Homo sapiens: one gene and its partner. The protein of the gene in region 2 purifies or fractionates together with the protein of the main gene of each other region. This does not show direct contact. Each region holds a gene or a part of one and is shown on either strand. Other genes may lie near its edges.

Region 1 (3,657 bases), on a different chromosome or scaffold from region 2:
ATTAATACAACTATTCTTTTTTTTTTTTTTAATTTATTTTTTTATTGATAATTCTTGGGTGTTTCTCACAGAGGGGGATTTGGCAGGGTCATGGGACAATAGTGGAGGGAAGGTCAGCAGATAAACAAGTGAACAAAGGTCTCTGGTTTTCCTAGGCAGAGGACCCTGCGGCCTTCCGCAGTGTTTGTCCCTGATTACTTGAGATTAGGGAGTGGTGATGACTCTTAACGAGCATGCTGCCTTCAAGCATCTGTTTAGCAAAGCACATCTTGCACCACCCTTAATCCATTTAACCCTGAGTGGACACAGCACACGTTTCAGAGAGCACAGGGTTGGGGGTAAGGTCACAGACCAACAAGATCCCAAGGCAGAAGAATTTTTCTTAGTGCAGAACAAAATGAAAAGTCTCCCATGTCTACTTCTTTCTACACAGACACGGCAACCATCCGATTTCTCAATCTTCTCCCCACCTTTCCCGCCTTTCTATTCCACAAAGCCGCCATTGTCATCCTGGCCCATTCTCAATGAACTGTTGGGCACACCTCCCAGACGGGGTGGTGGCCAGGCAGAGGGGCTCCTCACTTCCCAGTAGGGGCGGCCGGGCAGAGGCGCCCCTCACCTCCCGGACGGGGCGGCTGGCCGGGCAGGGGGCTGACCCCTCCACCTCCCTCCCAGACGGGGCAGCTGGCCAGGCTGGGGGCTGACCCCCCCACCTCCCTCCCGGACGGGGCGGCTGGCCGGGTGGGGGGCTGACCCCCCCACCTCCCTCCCGGACGGGGCGGCTGGCCGGGCAGAGGGGCTCCTCACTTCCCAGTAGGGGCGGCCGGGCAGAGGCGCCCCTCACCTCCCAGACGGGGCGGCTGGCCAGGTGGGGGGGCTGACCCCCCCCCCCGGACGGGGTGGCTGGCCGGGCGGGGGGCTGACCCCCCCCACCTCCCTCCCGGACGGGGCGGCTGGCCGGGCAGAGGGGCTCCTCACTTCCCAGTAGGGGCGGCCGGGCAGAGGCGCCCCTCACCTCCCAGACGGGGCAGCTGGCCGGGCAGGGGGCTGACCCCCCCACCTCCCTCCCGGACGGGGCGGCTGGCCGGGCAGAGGGGCTCCTCACTTCCCAGTAGGGGCGGCCGGGCAGAGGCGCCCCTCACCTCCCAGACGGGGCGGCTGGCCAGGTGGGGGGGCTGACCCCCCCCCCCGGACGGGGTGGCTGGCCGGGCGGGGGGCTGACCCCCCCCACCTCCCTCCCGGACGGGGCGGCTGGCCGGGCAGAGGGGCTCCTCACTTCCCAGTAGGGGCGGCCGGGCAGAGGCGCCCCTCACCTCCCAGACGGGGCAGCTGGCCGGGCAGGGGGCTGACCCCCCCACCTCCCTCCCGGACGGGGCGGCTGGCCGGGCGGGGGGCTGACCCCCCCACCTCCCTCCCGGACGGGGCGGCTGGCCGGGCGGGGGGGCTGACCCCCCCCACCTCCCTCCCCGACGGGGCGGCTGGCCGGGCGGGGGGCTGACCCCCCCACCTCCCTCCCCGACGGGGCGGCTGGCCGGGCGGAGACGCTCCTCACTTCCCAGATGGGGGGGCTGCCGGGCGGAGACGCTCCTCACTTCCCAGATGGGGTGGCTGCCGGGTGGAGAGGCTCCTCACTTCTCAGACGGGGCAGCTGCCGGGCGGAGGGGCTTCCTCACTTCTCAGACGGGGTGGTTGCCAGGCAGAGGGTCTCCTCACTTCTCAGACGGGGCGGCCGGACAGAGACGCTCCTCACCTCCCAGACGGGGTTGCGGCCGGGCAGAGGCGCTCCTCACATCCCAGATGGGGAGGCGGGGCAGAGGCGCTCCCCACATCTCAGACGATGGGCGGCCGGGCAGAGACGCTCCTCACTTCCTAGATGTGATGGCAGCCGGGAAGAGGCGCCGCTCCTCACTTCCTAGATGGGATGGCGGCCAGGCGGAGACGCTCCTCACTTTCCAGACTAGGCAGCCAGGCAGAGGGGCTCCTCACATCCCAGACGATGCGCGGCCAGGCAGAGACACTCCTCACTTCCCAGATGGGGTGGCGGCCGGGCAGAGGCTGCAATCTCGGCACTTTGGGAGGCCAAGGCAGACGGCTGGGAGGTGGAGGTTGCAGCGAGCCGAGATCACGCCACTGCACTCCAGCCTGGGCACCATTGAGCACTGAGTGAACCAGACTCCGTCTGCAATCCCGGCACCTCGGGAGGCCGAGGCTGGCGGATCACTCGCGGTTAGGGGCTGGAGACCTGCCCGGCCAACACAGCGAAACCCCGTCTCCACCAAAACCAGTCAGGCGTGGCGGCGCGTGCCTGCAATCGCAGGCACTCGGCAGGCTGAGGCAGGAGAATCAGGCAGGGAGGTTGCAGTGAGCCGAGATGGCGGCAGTACAGTCCAGCTTCGGCTCCGCATGAGAGGGAGACCGTGGAAAGAGAGGGAGACCGTGGAAAGAGAGGGACACCGTGGGGAGAGGGAGAGGAAGAGCAATACAACTATTCTTAACCCTTGATTTAAATCTTTTGGGGAAGGGGATGTATGAATGTTCTTCACCTCAGACCTGTTTGCTAAAGGTGAATAGACATTCCTGAATAAAACAGAGCTTTCTACTCATCACGGCTCTTCTCAGCCCTCTCCACTATGGAAAATAAGCCATAAAGTCATCCAGGAGAGAAACCTACAAACAACTCTTCACTTAGCAAGAACAGACACCGGGCCACAGATAATTGCTCTTATTTTACAATACATTTAAACAAATATGATTAAAATACTTGCATTATAGCTAAAATGCTATAGAAAATTACTGTTATTCTCTGAAAAATAAATTAAATGAAATTGACAACAACGGTATTCAACCTCCTAAAAATCCTTGTCTTTGAAGATCCAGATTATAAAGATCACATGCTTAACACATTTGGGGCCAAGATGATGTCTGCTTAGAAAGCTCTTCATGACTCCATGTTTACACTGGAAAAAAGAAGTCAAGGATTTCACTGCATCCACACTAACACTTAGCTCCTAGTGCTACTCATGAAATTTAAGGTAAACATACAAAAGTTCCTAAAAAAGACTGAGTAGCCACGCAGTATACTGACAGCGTGACTTGTCCAAAATAGTTATATACAAGTTGTTTGTCCATAAACCAGCAGAACTTTAATACAATATATTTCCTTTAGAGAATATGTGCCATCAAGGTGAAAATAGGATCAAACTGAAAAGATAGTTCAGCTTAAGTTGATTGCAAACTGCGACCATGTCTTACCTTTTCAGGTCAACAGTCGTCACACTAAATACAACTCCTTTGAGCCAAAGAATCATGAAGAGCCTCTGGGAAAAGGGGCAGTTTCCTATGCTTTCACCATCACTGCCAGCCTGGAAAACAGAATTAAACATTAAAAACAAGGTCAAAGTGATGATACTCAACATGACATAACTTTTTCTGAATTTTAATCAAGAGTACAAGAAGCCAGGAAAAGTTACATTGTGGAAGGAAGAGTAGAAATTTGGGTCTTTATTATTTTGTTCTTTCATTAGCCTTTTTTTTTTTTTTTCTTTTTTTGAGACAGGGTCTCCTTCTGTCACCCAGGCTGGAGTGCAGTGGTGCGATCTCAGCTCACTGCAACCTTCACCTCCCATCTTAGCCTCCCAAGCAGCTGGAGCTACAGGC
Region 2 (4,153 bases):
GTCTCTCAAACGCGAGGGCACATGAGTCACCCAAAGTGCTGCTGAAGTTTGTGAAGCGCTACTGGAGGCAGTCCCAGAGGGCTTTGGAGCAGGAGAGGGACGCGATGAAAACAAGAGCTCAGAAAGATTAATTTGCCAACAGTGTGCAGACTGGAGATCAGCAGACAGGTTATGGGCCACAGGGTGGCAGACTTGAGGGCTCCTTTAAGGCAGCGACCCCGGCCCTGCTGAAGGGAGGCTGGCCTTCGGCCGCCCAGGCCGTCTCTCTAGTTCCGTTGGAAGCAAGGCGCTGCGTGCTCCGGACGGCTTACTGAGGGCACTTTGGGGAATCCGTCCCCACGGGCGAAGTATAGGTGGGGTGTTCGCGAACCGGCGGGCGGAGAGCACCGGCAAGAACCCCCGCAGACCGGAGGGCCACGCCTCTCGCTCCTCGGCTCATTGCAGGCGCCCACATCCCACCCCGCGGTGCTGAGCGAGGCGCATCTCGCTGCCATGGCGACCGCCTCCATGGAGACCGGGAGCAGAGGCTGCGGTCCCCGGGGGCGCGTCACAGGCTCTCCCAGCCCCCAGCCCGCGTGCCTTCTTTGTTCTGATGCTTCTCCAGGCCGGGCCAGGCACCCGGGACGCGTCTCGGGCCCGCACGGGGGTTGCTTCTTTCGAGACAGGGGATGGGGTGGAAGGGGAAGAGGTCCAAACCCTGGGGTCGAAACAGGAGTGATGGAGGGTTCCTCAGCTCCTGAACGAGACCAACACGGCCCGTATCGATGGCCGAAGCCGGCGTGGAAGCCCAGGGAGAAAGGCCACCTTCGGGAGCTCCACCCAGCCCCGAGACGCGCCCGACAGCCCTCCCGAGAGCGAAGGGCCCAAGGGAGGTGCGTCCTAAGCAAGGTTCAAGGCTAGAGGCGCTATCCCCCAGGCGGAAGAAGGAGCGGGGGCGGGGCCTATCCGAGGCCCTCCTTCTCCCTCTTCGAGTGGTCGGTTCTGGCCCCTGGCCTAGTTGGGCCGCCTGCCCGTCTTCCTCGCGAGAGCTCGCCCGGCAGGCGCGGACTAGCAGGGCGCTGCCTCGGCGACCCTGGCACGTGACGTAGGCGGCCCTCGCCAGTTGGCCGTTCTTTGGAGCCCGCTCATTGGTCCGGAGCGTCCCTCGCCCCACCCTCCCAGATCAACCAATGGGCGGAGGCGGGGGCGTGCCGACGGGAGGGCGGCCGCGGCGCGGGGCTCCCTTCCTCGTGCTCGGCGTTGAGCTCCTGCAGCCGCCGCCGCTGCAGTGGTCGTCCCTGCCCTCCCCGGCCCCGGGGTGCACCCCGCAAGGTGAGGCCACCCCTCTGCTCCCTGCCTCCCGGTTCCTTCCCGTTCGCCGAGGTCCCCTCCCGGTCCCGGCCCTGTCCTGAGCAGTCAGTGCCTGGGACCCCAGCGGCCGTGATGGCAGGGCTGGGGTGGGGGGCTCCGCTGTCGGGGCCGGGCCTGGAGGACTCCCCAGCACCTGAACTAGAGTGATGTCAGGTTCCCGGGGCGCAGTGACCGTTAGCTGGTGCAGCTGGGGTGTTTTCCGCGAAGCGATTGTCCGGGGGCATGAGTGCGGTAGTGAGGGCGGGGGCGTAATGGGGTCAGCGCCCCCTCCTCCCCACGACCCTGTTCATTGCCGCTGCCTCGCTGCATGACCTTGGACCAGTAGCATCTCTGAGCCTCCGAGCCTCAGCACCCTCAGGAAGGAGGGCAGTGATGTCTGGGAGTGCGGGCTCCGGAGACTCCTGCGTCAGCCGAGGTGAGTGAAGGTGGGGAGTGCACAGGATTATCTCCGAGGGACAGAGCCGCCGCCTCGCAGCTCAGGATGGATTGGATGGGGGGGATGTCCGATTACATTTCCCCCCTCCCCCTGAGATGACAAGAATGGGGTGTGGCGGGGGTGCCACACCCACAGGGATGGCTGCCGGAGAGGATAAAGGGTCCTACACCTGGACCCTTGGGGCCTCGGGGGCTTGGGCTGCACCTCCCTCCCGGTGGTATGAAGGAGGAGGGACTGGATTTAGGTTCTGGACCCGTGTTTCCATTAGTAAGCAGGGACTGAGAAAGGGAAGTCTCCGCTTGCCTTTCTTCTTGAATCTTGGCACTGGAAAGTGGAGGTAGGGCATTTTTCTGCTCCGGGGAGTTGAAGAAAGTCGGGGCAGCACCCCATCCCTCTCCCATTCTGGTCTTTTGTGGAGGGAAAATGTAGCTGGATATCCCCCCACATTCTATCCATCCTGAGCTACGAGGCAGCAGCCCTGTCCCTGGGAGATAATCCTGTGTGCTCCCACCCTCACCTTGGCTGACCCCCTGGATCCAGCCTGGCCTCTGCTTCTTGGGACCTCTGGATCACAGGCCCAGGGCAGGGCCTAGGTGGGGCATGCTATCTGGAGGCTAAGCACCCACTAGCTGAGGGCAAAGTGGGGAGAATGCTGGGCAGAGGAGGGCAGCACTTGTTGGGGAGGCAGGAAGGTGTGGGTGGTGAGGGTCCCTTCTCCATATTCCCCCACCCCCACCCCCAGCACCTCACTGTTAGAAGGAGAGAGAACAGCCATACTTATCTTTGCACCTTTGGCCCACTGGAGGGAGAAGGAAATTAAATCACATTAAAGCTGAGTTGATGTGAAGCTGCCACAACTACTGACCTCCAGCCTTGCCTTTCCAGGCTTTGTTCTGAGTATGTGTGGCCTCTGCTGTGTCCAGTCCTGAGAGTCAGCGGGTCAGTGTGGCCCCATCTCAAGGCCTCAATGGCTGTTCTTTTCACAGGCGTGAGCTTTAATGGGAGGCTACACAGTGCTTCTGCTGGACTGAGTGCTTGAGCCAGGACTGAGCCCCAGGCTGGGGTAGGAGAGGAAGAGGTAGGGAGGGTGGAAGGTTGCGGAGTTCCTGGCTCAGAGAGAAAGACCTCGAACCACAATGAGAATGGGGACTGAAGAAGGAATGAGAAATGAGGTCTCAGACGTTGGGAGCATGCTGACCAGAGGTGAATGGGTGTAGCTCCTCTTCCTGCACCCTGGGCTGGGGCCTGGAAGCTTGCTGACACTCCATCTCATGGGGAAGGGTATAATTTTTTTTGCTGGCGGGGAGGCACCATGTTCCTCCCTAGTCATTTCCCAGTTTCCCAGGATGTTCATTCTGCACATCTTCCTTGTGACCCCCTCTGGTTAGGGGGACTGGAAACTCCCAGCATCTGTTCTCTGACCCTCCCTAGGGACCTGGCTGCTTTGGGAGTGGGAGAAGGGGGAGGCAGGAGGAGGGAGGCCCCCTCACCCCTTGAGCTGTTTTCCAAGAAGGCTGACGTCCCTGGGGCCCACTCTAAGGGTCACTCCTGGCTCCTCCAGGATTGGCCTGAAGTGCCTCTCTGACGGTGCTGCTGAAACTGCTGTTGCTTTAGAAACCAGGCCTTTGGGGGTTTGCTTTTGCAGAGATGGGGGGTGCATTGTCACAGAGCTTCAGGCACAGTTGCAGCAAACCCTGGAAGGAAGAGGCCACTGCTTATTCCTGTGTTACACATTAGGAAACAGGGACAGAGAAGTGAAAGAACTCACCCATGCAGCTAGCAAGGGCAGATCCTGAATTTGAACCAGGACTGCTGCCTCTGGGGGCCATGTGGATTGAGCCATGGTGAGGCCTTGGTTGGCACAGGAGGAGGCTGGAGGCAGGGCCAGGCTTGGGGTTGTGTGGTGGCCTAGCTGTTCTCTGTGGACACAGCTGCAGCAGGGGAGGCCCAGTGCCCTCTTTGCCTGTTTCTGATGAGGAATTGTGTGTGCACAAGAGTCTAGCTCCCCGAGGACAGCGACCAGCAGGTTCTCCATTGAGAAAGGAGGTTTGGTTTTCCCAGTTTCCTTTGGGTTCCTGAAGTCCCTTGCTTCCTGCCTCTATGTTGTCACTATCCAGAGGGTTACAGGCCCTCAGTGTTTGCCCTTTACTGAGTACTGGCACTGCATGAGATGTGGGTCCTACCCTCAGTGGGCATGGGGCATGTCCCTCTCAAAGCAGGCATGGACAGGTAACCAGCTGACTGCAGCAAGGCCTGAGGAGTCCCAGTGGGAGGCCACTTGGTGGGGGCCAGGGAGAGGGAAGTGCCCCCCAGGGCAGGGGTGAGGCAAAAGAGTGGGGTGGGGAGTTCTGCTTCCTCAGAGCCCCC

The links.
Region 1: the proteins of ADISSP (region 2) and CLIC4 fractionate together in Homo sapiens (co-fractionation; one large-scale study listed by BioGRID). This does not show direct contact.

Annotation. Positions count from the first base shown.
Region 1 is NC_000001.11:24,797,447-24,801,103, reverse strand, and holds part of CLIC4 (chloride intracellular channel protein 4), read right to left. Parts: intron 3,363-3,657; coding exon 3,253-3,362; intron 1-3,252. UniProt on the Homo sapiens protein: In the soluble state, catalyzes glutaredoxin-like thiol disulfide exchange reactions with reduced glutathione as electron donor. Can insert into membranes and form voltage-dependent multi-ion conductive channels.
Region 2 is NC_000020.11:3,764,821-3,768,973, reverse strand, and holds the start of ADISSP (adipose-secreted signaling protein), read left to right. Parts: upstream 1-1,220; 5' UTR 1,221-1,311; exon of another isoform or gene 1,312-1,765; intron 1,766-4,153. UniProt on the Homo sapiens protein: Adipocyte-secreted protein (adipokine) that acts as a key regulator for white adipose tissue (WAT) thermogenesis and glucose homeostasis at least in part through activation of protein kinase A (PKA).